Linked DNA regions of Homo sapiens. The protein of the gene in region 1 purifies or fractionates together with the protein of each later gene. This does not show direct contact. Each region holds a gene or a part of one and is shown on either strand. Other genes may lie near its edges. The genes, in order: LARS2 and RDX.

Region 1 (4,626 bases):
GAGACAGGGGGAGCATGATTGGCACCTACTCACCCTGAAGGGACTGCCTTGGTAAGGCAACTCAGGGGAGGCCTGGGGAGCCAGAACCGTGTGAGGGTGCCCGAGGCAGCAAGGGAAAGACTCAGAGCACGATGGCCACATTCAGAGATCACATGCCCTGCCCCCAAAGCCCCAGCTGTGGACAAGAATGACTCAGGTCCCTTGGACAGGCTGTCACCAGTGATGACTTAGGACCAGCCTGCCCGGCTCCAGCAAAGCACAGGAAGCTCGAAGGTTTAGAAATGGGTCATTGTTGTGCTGAGGCCATGCGTCAAAGAGGACATCCCACAGCCAGCTCCTATCCTGGCCAGCACTCTTGACAAAGGCAGAGGGAGTGCAGCTTAGTGAGCTGGTCCCTTTACACAGGTTATTCACTCCAGAATCTGGAGAATTCTGTCCTTAAGGAAAAAAAAAAAAAAAACTAAGCTCAAGATCCCACAGCTTGTAAGACCAGGCCTAAGAGTCAAACCTGAATCTCCCCACATGAGAGCACCATGCTCCCCCTCACCCAGCACCCCCTCTGTAGGTGGTGGCCCAGAGGAGATGTTGCCCTGGGCTGCTCTTCCATAGGAGGAAAGACATGATTCACTAATAACTGCATGTCCTGAGAATTCCCTGTTGGGGACCCCAGGACTTCACTAGGGGCATGGCTCTTGGGTGACAGTTGGGAGGTCTCTTCCAGGGTCTCAGTCCAGCCAAGCATGTGGCCTTGCAAGAAGGCAGCTTCTAATGGCTCAGAAACACCAGGGCAGGGGGGCCACAGTCCTTCACACCACACACTTAGTTCCCCAGCTTCAGAACGCTTTAAAACGCTGCAGCATGGAGCCTCACGCTTTCAAAACAGTATTTCATAATATGCCAGGACTTTGTGTTTTATTCGTCCTCTCCCTGTGACCTAGGCTAATGCAGACAATAAAAATGCCACCAAGTTCTGCAAAACTGAAAAAATGAAGTGGGTGATTAGGGGACATTTGATAATGTGCTTTGGTTGAAACTTGAGAAATTATTCCTAGTAACTTTTCCTAAGACTGTGACTATATTTTCCAAGTGAAAAATAAGAGCTAGTGAAAGTAATGTGTGTGTAGATTTCGGAGCAATGGGATTGAGGATTTGGAAGCATGACTTCAGAAACTGAGCCACGTGGTCACCTTCCCTCATTGAATCAATATTCGGTGAATACCCACCTGTGTCTGGAACTGTACTGACCCATGTTAAGCGAGAAAGAGTGATTAATGTGACAAGATGTGGCTCCAATTTCTAAGTCCTCACACTAGAGCGCCCCCTTCTGGAGCCAGTCAGCAGAGAGAGAAGTTTGACTGTGTCCCCCTTGAAACCGTCAACTGTTTGGTCCACTTGAGACCTAGGTAAAATCTGAGGGGACAGCTCACTCTAACCTGGATCTGAACTTAAACTTGAGCCCCGATGACAGAATAATCCCTTTCTGCCTGGAAATGGCCCAAGCCATCTCATGCTGAGGCTTTTTGACATAATCTCTACCACAGCTGTGTATGGGAGCAGTGCTCAGAAAATGCAAGGCGGTCCTCACTCCACGTACGGGCACTCACATGCAGTCTCAGTGTCGGTCTCTTTCTGCAGGTCTAGGCATTAATCCTATTCAGCTGGTTGCATTTTACCCTTATGGGAAGCAGAGTGCTGACTTCCTCCTTTCTCCACCTCTATTCCTTTCCCCTAAACAAATGCAGCCATGCCCTTTACAGGCAGGAGGTTTGGTATTGGGCCGCCTGCCACTCTGAGGATGTTCCTCATTGTTTATCTTGGCTTTTCTCCTTCTCAGATCAACAATAAAGCTTGTGGCAAAATTCCTGTGCCCCAACAAGTTGCCCGGGACCAGGACAAAGTCCACGAATTTGTTCTTCAAAGCGAGCTGGGTGTCAGGCTTTTGCAAGGACGAAGCATCAAGAAGTCCTTCCTTTCCCCGAGAACTGCCCTCATCAACTTCCTGGTGCAAGATTGACAGCCAGGAGGCTGCAGCTACCACGAGGGCCTCTGAGGAACCTCCTTCCAGGCCTGGGATGAGGGGGCGATGTCTGCTGGCCCAGGGGAAGGGAAAAGACAAATGTCTTGACTGTTGACCTCGGTCCTGTGGCAGACTGCAGTCAACAGTGTGCCTCTGTAGTGTGGCCTGGTGCTGGGGTGAAGGTGAGCTGGGCAAAGGAGAAATATGAGCTACTGAGGAGGGGGTTGGACATCCTGCCCCTCACCCCCCACCCACACTGCAGGTAGAGGAGGCCATCTGATCCCATGGGAAGCCATCAGAGACACTGCTGGTGGGAGCAGGAAGGAGCAGTGCCCCTCGAGCAGCCAGGAAGCCTGCGGATCTGGGAAATGGCTCTGCCTTAGGCACTTCTCGGGAATTTGAGGCCAGCCTGAGGAACTGCAGGACTCAGGTGCAATGTGCCAGCCACTTGGAACTGCTAACTGAGCCTCCAGATGGTAGTGAATGGTCTCTTTGCCTTCAGGCTGGATGAGGAAGTCATTTAGGAAATGTTCAAATAACCAATATGTGGAAATGGACACAGGGATCTTCTGAAGTTGCTTTGAATCAAAAGGCAGGCAGTGCTGGTTCCTCTGCCTGTGTCCCCACCACTCCCCAGCTCTGTCATGCAGGCCTGTCCTCCCCAACCCCAGCTGGATGTGCCTCCCAGGCCTGCTGTGGTTCTGACACACAGGATCCCAGGCAAGGCACCACTTCCTCACATGAATGAGGAGCAGCAAGTCATAACCACTCCCTTGGGTATACAATTTGCTGTGTAGTGAAGTGGAACCAGGCTCAGGCTGCTGGTCCCAACCTCAGAGCCCCACCGCAGCCCAGTAGGGATGCAGCACGCCCCAGAGGGCTCATGTGGGCCCCAGATGGCAATGCCACCATTGTTGATGTGACTCCAGAGCCAGTTATTAGGAAGAGCAAGCTCACCACAGAGGAGTGGAACTGAGGCCCCCCAGATGTTGCCTCCGGTGTCCAAGCCACAGCGGTCTGGCTGTTGGGAAGATGGCCAGGAATGGACTCATACCATTGGCACATTAGGCTAATCCTGGTTTTATGTGAAGTCAGCAATTAAGTGTTCCCACTAGAACTGACCTAAGCCACTGATTAATATTTAATGAGGGAAGGTAGGGGAGAATCTAGCCATTTTATAATGCCAGAAATCTATATATGTTATCTGATGCCATTTTTCTGAAGTAGCCTCACATGTGGTCCCCCTGCAGTTCAGCAGTTAACAGATGACTTTTTTAGTGTAATAAAATGTTTATCATCTATGACTTCAGGACATATGTGTGATCCTGGAATACACCATATTCCAATTTCAGAGTTAATTACAAACAGATTGAGGTATTCCATCATCATCGGAAGCATTGGCTGTGTGTCTGACTCCACATGGAATGCTATAAAGTGGGATACATGTGGTTCTTCTTGTTCCAGAACTTACAGTCCATGGTAGACAACACTGATACAGGCAAACTAGCAACAGCAATTAAGTCACTGGTTCTCAGACTTAATACTCTGCCTGGTCCTCATGCCCAGATATTCCAATTTAATTGGTCCATGGTGTGGCTTGAACACCAGGAATCTTTAAAACTCCACAAGTGATTCTAATGGGCAGCAAAGTTTGAGAATCACTGGACACATTGATGCACTTGAGCCATCATTTCTATCTAGTTCTTCCTCTTCCTAATCTTCAGGTTAGCGGGGATAAGTTTGGTCCAGGACCAAGAGTTGGACCAAAAGGGAAGACAGGGGCCAGAAGTCTAGAGTGCTAGAGCCGACTTGAATGTACTCAGTCTCATTGCACATGGCAGTGAATATGGATTAAATATAAGCCCATGAAAATATTTGGTACAAGGAAGGAGTGAGTGATTTTGATTATCTTGTTATTTCCTAGTAAGCTAAGTGGTCTTGAACAAGATGAGGGAAGGGAGCCCTTTATTTGCATGTGATCTGACCAGAGCAATGGGCCAGTAAAGCCTCAAGGCTGCTAGACTGACCAGCTGGCTGACACCAGCATGGCTCTGAAGAAATTGCTCCAAGAGGATAAAGCTTTTGCAAACAAGAGCTCATCAGTACATACTAAGAGACAGTATGGGTAATGGAACAACTGGACAGAAAACTCTGACCCCTGGGAGTGAGGTGGTGGGGAATAATCTCAGCCATTTATTGACTGTCTTGTTGAGGTCAGAAACTGGACTCAGCAGGTTCACAATAATTATCTTATTTAATTCCCACAAAAACTCTAGAGGGAAGGAATTATTCTCTCATAAAAGAAGAAACCCAGGCTCTGAGGTTCAATAATTGTCTCAGTTTTCACAGCTAATAAGTAGGAGAACTGGGATCCAAGCCCACATCTTCTGTCCTCCACGTTTGCCTCCCCGCCATGTCTACCAGTCCCCTCACCTAATTGTCCATGTTACTTGGTGTACACAGTCAGGTGAGATGGCTCCCAAAACCACTGGCATTTTGAGCAGAGTGTGGCTGGGGTTTCCCTCCTGGAAAGCCTGTAAACCTGGGAAATCACAGAGGTGGTGTCCTCTCTGCAGGGGCAGTGGTGGGTGAGAGGCCAAGAGCATGTG
Region 2 (7,294 bases), on another chromosome or scaffold:
ACTCATATGAATATGTACTCAAACACAGTGCCACACATTAGAGACAACATAGACACAATAAACATTCTCTCCTTTGTCTTTTAACTCTGAGGGTAACCCTCAGTCTCCTTTCTACCTAATGCAATGGAAAAATAGCCTCATGCTCGACACATTGAGCTCTGTTAGGTCAGTGGCACAAGACTCACACCTGTCAGGTGGTAAAACAGGTGTTATAAAGTCTAGTCCATGCAGTGCCTGCACTGAAGCATCAATAATTCATAGCAGATTGCCTGATTTTACTTTTGAGATACTCTTTTCCCTAAGCCTAATTTTAATTATTTTAAATTTTTTTCTGCCTTTTCGGACTTAGAAATGACCTCTGAACATAATTGTGGTCTCTCCAGAAACCAAAATATTCCAAGAGAACTCATCTGCCAATTTACTGGGAGAAAGCTGCACAACAAAGAACAGTATAAACTGAATAAGGCAACTCTGGCAGTCCAATCAACACAATAATGGAATCTACTAAAGAAGTTCTTAATCATTTTATTTTTCCTGCATGGGCCCTGCTGGTGAAGCCTATGAACTCTTTCTAAGAAAAGTATTTTTAAATGCATAAAATACATGCACACAATACAGAAAATTACAAAAGAAACCAATTACACTGGAATATGATTATCAAAATATAAAAAACACAAACCTTGAGTAATATATATGCTTTTTTAATACTTTAAGTAACAGTTAAGTTATTTCGAGACAGCTTTAATGTATTCCAAAAGTATCTACCGTTTCTATTAGAAACAGTCTCTGGGCTGGTTATGGTGGCTCATGCCTGTAATCTCAACACTTTGGGAGACCAAGGCAGGAAGATGGCTTGGGGCCGGGAGTTCAAAACCAGTCTGGGCAATCTACAAAAAATAAAAAAATTAGCTGTGTGTAGTGATGTGCACCTGTAGTCCCAGCTATTCTAAAGGGTCACTTGAACCCAGGAGTGATGGTGCCACTGCACTCCAGCCTGGGCAACAGAGTGAGATCCCATCTCTATAAAAAATAAAAATTAAATTAAAAAATAGACGACACAGTCTCTGGTACTGTACTGCTAATGCTAATGTTGTCTATACTCATAACAAGAAAATGTAAAAATAAAGATGTAACTTTTTCCCCATTCAAGGTCATAGGTCCCCGGGTTTAAAACCTTTAATATACAAAGAACTATGCTTATTATGCTGTTAGCTCAGTGTTAATAAATTTTATGGCAATAATAATGCACTTTTACCTAAATAATGACATGTCATCCCGTCATCCCAAAGTGAAGCAAAGAGGACAAGAATTTTTAGCTCCATTTTGCAAGTAAAGAAATAAGGCCAAAAGCAAGAAGGGTAGTGAATACAGGGAGCATCTGTAGAATGCTCACTCTCCACTCTGCCTACACTTCCTATCTTCACAATAACTGCCCTCCCCCTTCCTGCCCAAGACAGGTGTTACAATCTCTCATTCTTCTAAAAAAGAAATTAAGATTCAGATAAATGACTTGCTCAATGTCAGGGGGCTACTTAACAAGACATAAGTCCTTTAAAATCCTAGTCTTGGGCTCTTTTGATTATCTTATTCTACTTTTCTCAGATACCATTTTAGACAAGTTCATTCGAAACAATTACTAGGGCTTTTCAAGAAGTAGGCTATTAAAGCTCTCTATTGTTAGCAGGTCAAGAGACTACCTCTAAAGATGTTTTAAGTGCACATTAATAACTGGTATGATCATCTCTGTAAATGGATTTCCTGTAAGGGTGAGAGGCAGTTTTAAATAAGATATTAAGTCTTGCTCATGTAGAAATGATTTCTGGTTTAATGATATTTTCAAGGAAATGAAATATTCAACGTTTGAGTAATATACATGTTACTGAAAATGCAAAGCAAATTTCTAAAATTTATAAAGCTGAACTGCAATATTAACACCAAAGTTTTACACTGAGTTTAGGATCTCTTCTAAGAGTTTTGTAAATTTAAAAAGGAAAATCATACCTGTATTGTTCCTAAGGTGAGCAGAAAACAAAATAATACACTATCATTTGCAATTATTAAATACTAAAAGGTAAGAAAGCTAAATCCAGTTCAACTTCCTCATTTCACTCTTAAGAAAACATTAAACATTCACATAAAAATGTTTAGAAATGGGAAAACAGGTTCATGCAAGTCACTTATATAACAGGAAAGAAGCAAACACAAAATAATTCTCACAAATAATTCTACCCTTAATGTGCTTTGAAACATCAGATATTATAGCTTATTTTCAAAACAGAACAAAGTCAGTATGTTTCTTAAATGTCTTTATAATTAGACAATATTCTCTAACACAGTCAACGAGGCTATATGGCAGTTCTATTGCTATAAAAAAATTAAGCTTCTAATTTTCTAGATATTAACTCCCTTTTTTGAAAAACTGATACAATGCCTGGTTCACAGTTGGGCCTCAAAATGTCTGTTGATTTTGTTGGTGAATTAATCTTACACATAATACTAGTTTTAATTTTTCTGTTGATTAGTGTCAAGGGCAATAGTTTCCTCTCTTTTTTTATGTTGTAAAATGACCAAACTAATAAGCATCACTAAGAAGAGAGAACCAACATGAACATGGGGAACAAAAAAAGCTCCTTACAGCTGGGCGTGGTGGCTCACACCTGCAATCCCAGCACTGTGGGAGGCCCAGGTGAGCGGATCACCTGAGGTTGGGAGTTCGAGACCAGCCTGACCAACATGGAGAAACCCCCATCTCTACCAAAAATAAAAAATTAGCCGAGCGTGGTGGCGCATGCCTGTAATCCCAGCTACTTGAGAAGCTGAGGCAGGAGAATCACTTGAACCTGGGAGGCCGAGGTTGTGGTGAGCCAAGATCGCGCCATTGCACTCCAGCCTCGGCAACAAGAGCAAAACTCTATCTCAAAAAAAAAAAAAAAAAAAAAAACTTTTTACAACTAGGCCTCCCAAATTCAAGCCTTAACCATCTCTATCCAAAACTGTTTTAATAATTTCAATTAAGTTGACAATCAAATTAAAGGCCAGATAATTTGACACACTTAATGATAACTGTAATTACCATGCTGCTTGTTGATTAGATATTAGCAGTAAGCTTTCTGGTGATATATACTAACTTTGCTGAATAGCCAAACTAAGTTTTTATAGTTTTTCTAAGTCTAGAACCTATAAACAGCTTAAGTATCAGGAGTCCTCACAATGGCTAAGAAAATTTAATCCAAGCCAAAGGGATCTAAAGTCAATTAACCACAGCTGAGATTTTCTATGTTCCCATTCTCCCTTTCACTCAGAGTCCTTATGTTGACTGGGGGCGGTGGCTCACACCAGAAATCTCGGCACTTTGGGAAGCCAAGGCGGGTGAATCACTTGAGGTCAGGAGTTCAAGACCAGCCTAGCCAACACGGCGAAACTCCGTCTCTACTAAAAATATAAAAATTAGTCCCGTCTCTACTAAAAATATAAAAATTAGTCAGACGTGGTGACCTGTTTGGTGGTGTGCATCTGTAGTCCCAACTACTCGGGACGCTGAGGCAGGTGAATTGCATGAATCCAGGAGGCAGAGGCTGCAATGAGCTGAGATCATGCCACTGCACTCCAGCCTGGGTGACAAAGTGAGACTGTCTCAAAAAAAAAAAAAAAAAAAAAAAAAACAAGGGTCCTTACGTTGCATTAATGCATCCACATTATTCCATGTACTCACCAGGATTTTTTGTTATAAACAAAAATACCCACTCTGGTTAACTTATTAAAAGATTATCAGTCAATTTACAAAAACAACAGGAAGATTTAACAAAGAAAAAAAAACAGAGGAAGCAAGAAACATCCAGAACTCACAGCACAGAATACTGTGCTTAAAATGCTGCTGCAAGGAGTATTAATTAACTTATACACACTACTGTGACACTTAACAGGCCAGGTGTGGTGGCTCACGCCTGTAATCCCAGCACTTTGGGAGGCTGAGGCGGGAGGATCACTTGAACCCAGGACAGCCTGGGCAACATGGTGAGACCCCGTGTCTACAAAAAATAAAAAAGCCGGGAGTGGTGGCAAGCTCCTATAGTTCCAGCTACTTGGGAGACTGAGGTGGAGGGATCACTTCAGCCTGGGAGGTCAAGGTCACAGTGAGCTATAATCAAGCCACCGCACTCTGGCCTGGGCAACAGAGACAGTCTCAAAAAGAAAAAAAAAAAAGCACTTAACACACTTTATGAATACAATATGGCACATCTATCTGCCCATTAGAGTGAGAACTCCTGAGTATTTTACTCATCTTTCCATTCTCAAATGCAAAGAGTATGTGGCATATAATAACTGTCCAAATGTACGACTGACATCTTAAAGCAGTGGTCGGCAAACTTTTTCCGTAAAGGGCCAGGTAAGTAAACATTATAAGCTTTGTAAGCCACACAGTCTCTGTTGAAACCATTCTACTGTTGTAGCAGGAAAGCAGCCATAGATAATATGTAAACAAGTCAGCTACGATGTGTTCAAATAAAACTTTATAAAAACAGGCAGTAGGCTGGGTTTAGCCCATGGACCACAATTTGCCAAGTATTTTAACAAGAATCAACACTTTTCCTTTCATAATTTAACTGAAGTTGGTACCTACAAAGATATGAGCTCACTACATATGACTATCTGTAATGGATCAATTTTGGATATGACTTTGGGTGGGGGTAAAAAAAGGACCGAAGACATGTAATATAGATGAATAATGAAAATAACAGGGCTGGGTGCAGTTGCCTGCACTTTAGGAGGCTGAGGCAGGAGGATCACTTGAGGCCAGAAGTTTGAGACTAGCCTGGGCAACATAGTGAAACTGTATCTCTAAAAAAAATTAAAATCAGCCAAGCATGGTGGTGTGCACATGTAGTCTTAGCTACTCCAGAGGCTGAGGTGGGAGGACTGCCTGAGCCCCGGAGTTCAAAGCCCTGGAGTTCGTGGCATGGAGCTATGATCATGCCACTGTACTCCAGCAGCAGAGAGGTGACAGTGACAGAGAGAAGGAGGGAGACAGGGAAAAAGGGAGGGACGGAGGGAGGAAGGAAAAAGAAAAAAGAAGTATCTATTGGGAACAGAGTTGGAAGAAAGGGCAATTCCATTACCCTTGCCAGTTGACTGGTTAGGTATAGAATGTGCCCCAATCCTGGCCAATGAGGCTCGAAAGACATCTGCTTGGGGGTTTCTGGAAACAGTTCCTCTTATTCCTTTGGATACTGCCCTGTCTGGATGGGATGCAGCAGCCAAACTGGGACAAGGGGCTAACTGCAGGCTTGACCTCCCAGGCTCAAGTGATACCCCAACCTCAGCATTCTGAGTAGCTGGGACTACAGGTCCACACCACCGCTCCTGGCTCCTTTGCAGCAGCCAAATTGAGATGGGTAAGGGCTGTCTTAGTATGAAGTTAATAGGGAAAATCACAGGGAAGAGAGTTGGAAAGAGAAGGAGTCCTTGATGTCATTATTGAACCATTCTTGAGCCTCTGGACTTTTAGTATGCAAGACATTAAATTTTGGCCAGGCATGGTGGCTCACACCTGTAATCCTCCCAGCACTTCAGGAGGCCGAGGCAGAAAGTCCAAGGCAGGAAGTCTGAGGCAGGATGATCATTTGAGACCAGCCTGGGCAACATAGGGATACCCCGTATCTACAAAAAGGCTTTTTAAAAAATTAGTTGTTGGCCAGGCACAGTGGTTCACACCTGTAATCCCAGCACACTGGGAGGCCAAGGCGGGCAGATCACTTGAGGTCAGGAGTTTGAGACCAGCCTGGCCAACATGGTAACACCCTGTCTCTACTAAAAATACAAAAATTAGCCGGGCCTGGTGGCATGTGCCTTAAATCCCAGCTACTAGGGAAGCTGAGGCAGGAGAATCGCTTGAACCCTGGAGGCAGAGGCTGTAGTGAGCTGAGATCATGCCACTGCATTCCAGCCTGGGCAACAGAGCGAGACCCTGTCTTGGAAAAAAAAAAAAAAAATTAGCTAGGCATGGTGGCACACGCCTGTGTTGGCAGCTACTAGGGAGACTGATGTGGGAGGAACTTAAAGGATCACTTGAGCCCAGGAGGTCAAGGCTGCAGTGAGCTGTAATAGTGCCACTGCACTCCAGCTTGGGTGACAGAGGAAGACTCTGTTTTCAAAAAAAAATGAAGAAAAAAATGACATTAAATTTCCTCATTGTTTAAACCAGTTGGAGAATTTTCTGCTATTTGATGCCAATGCATCTTAAAGGATCTAAGGGCTCAAAACTGAAGAGCGCTCACTTCACAAATTTACCTGCAGTCAGTCCTAGTTGACTTAAACTTTTCACAAATAAATTAAAAAAAAAAAACATTTAAGGTCCTGAAAGCCATAGAGATTATCTACAACTCAGAAGAAAACAGTCCATTATCTCAATTACTAATAGCTTTATAAATTCTATAATCTTAGAGAAAATAAACAATGAAGTACCTGTTTCTTCAATACTGTATCTAAAATATCCTTTCAACAGGATGTTTTTTCTAAGGAGTTGGCAAACTTTTTTTGTAAAGAGCAAGATGTGGCTATTTCCCACACCAAATTATAAACCTCCTTTTTTAAAAGACACCATTTCTCATTGTCAACTATATGCCATATGCTAGAAAACAAAAAGTAAACTTCATCTTCAATCATTAATCAAGAAAATCTGTACACAAACAAATTTGCACATACACACACTTGAGAATTAGCGTAGGGAATTCTATTGTGTGCTTTTATTCAAATGATGAAAACATGAGAAATATGATTTACTCAATGTTTAACACAAGTTAATAAGCATCCTTTCAATGTCTGTTACAATATAACCCTATTTTAACAAGACTTTAAAATCACAAATAAGGGATATAAAGTATATGTTTATCCCTGCATACCTACTGGCATTTTCTATAAACAAGGAATTGCCGACAGCAGCTACCTATGGAAAACAGGACTGGGAAAGGGGCTGGGGTGTTCCAGGGAGTAAGGAGGACTTTGACCTTTTCCTTGACATTTTTCTGAGTTTTTAAACTTTGCCATAAAATATATCACTTTTATAGTTTTTTTTAAATGGCTTAAGCTATACATTCAATATAAAGATATACACCAGGAACTTAAAGTAGGAAAGGCAGGATTTCTCTAAAATAGGCTAGAAATTGAGGAACTCTCTGGGGCCAGATTGGACACCTCTATCATCAAAGCAGTACGCACACCCTGGCTGCAGCAATCAAGGAAGTTACCAGAACAGTCTTCAGCTGGATCAGTAATGCCATGAGACTTAAAATAATCT

Evidence for each region.
Region 2: the proteins of LARS2 (region 1) and RDX purify together in Homo sapiens (co-immunoprecipitation; 2 studies listed by BioGRID and IntAct, with this or other methods). This does not show direct contact.

Annotation. Positions count from the first base shown.
Region 1 is NC_000003.12:45,545,517-45,550,142, forward strand, and holds the end of LARS2 (leucine--tRNA ligase, mitochondrial), read left to right. Parts: intron 1-1,834; coding exon 1,835-2,014; 3' UTR 2,015-3,891; downstream 3,892-4,626.
Region 2 is NC_000011.10:110,286,321-110,293,614, forward strand, and holds part of RDX (radixin), read right to left. Parts: intron 888-7,294; exon of another isoform or gene 680-887; intron 1-679. UniProt on the Homo sapiens protein: Probably plays a crucial role in the binding of the barbed end of actin filaments to the plasma membrane.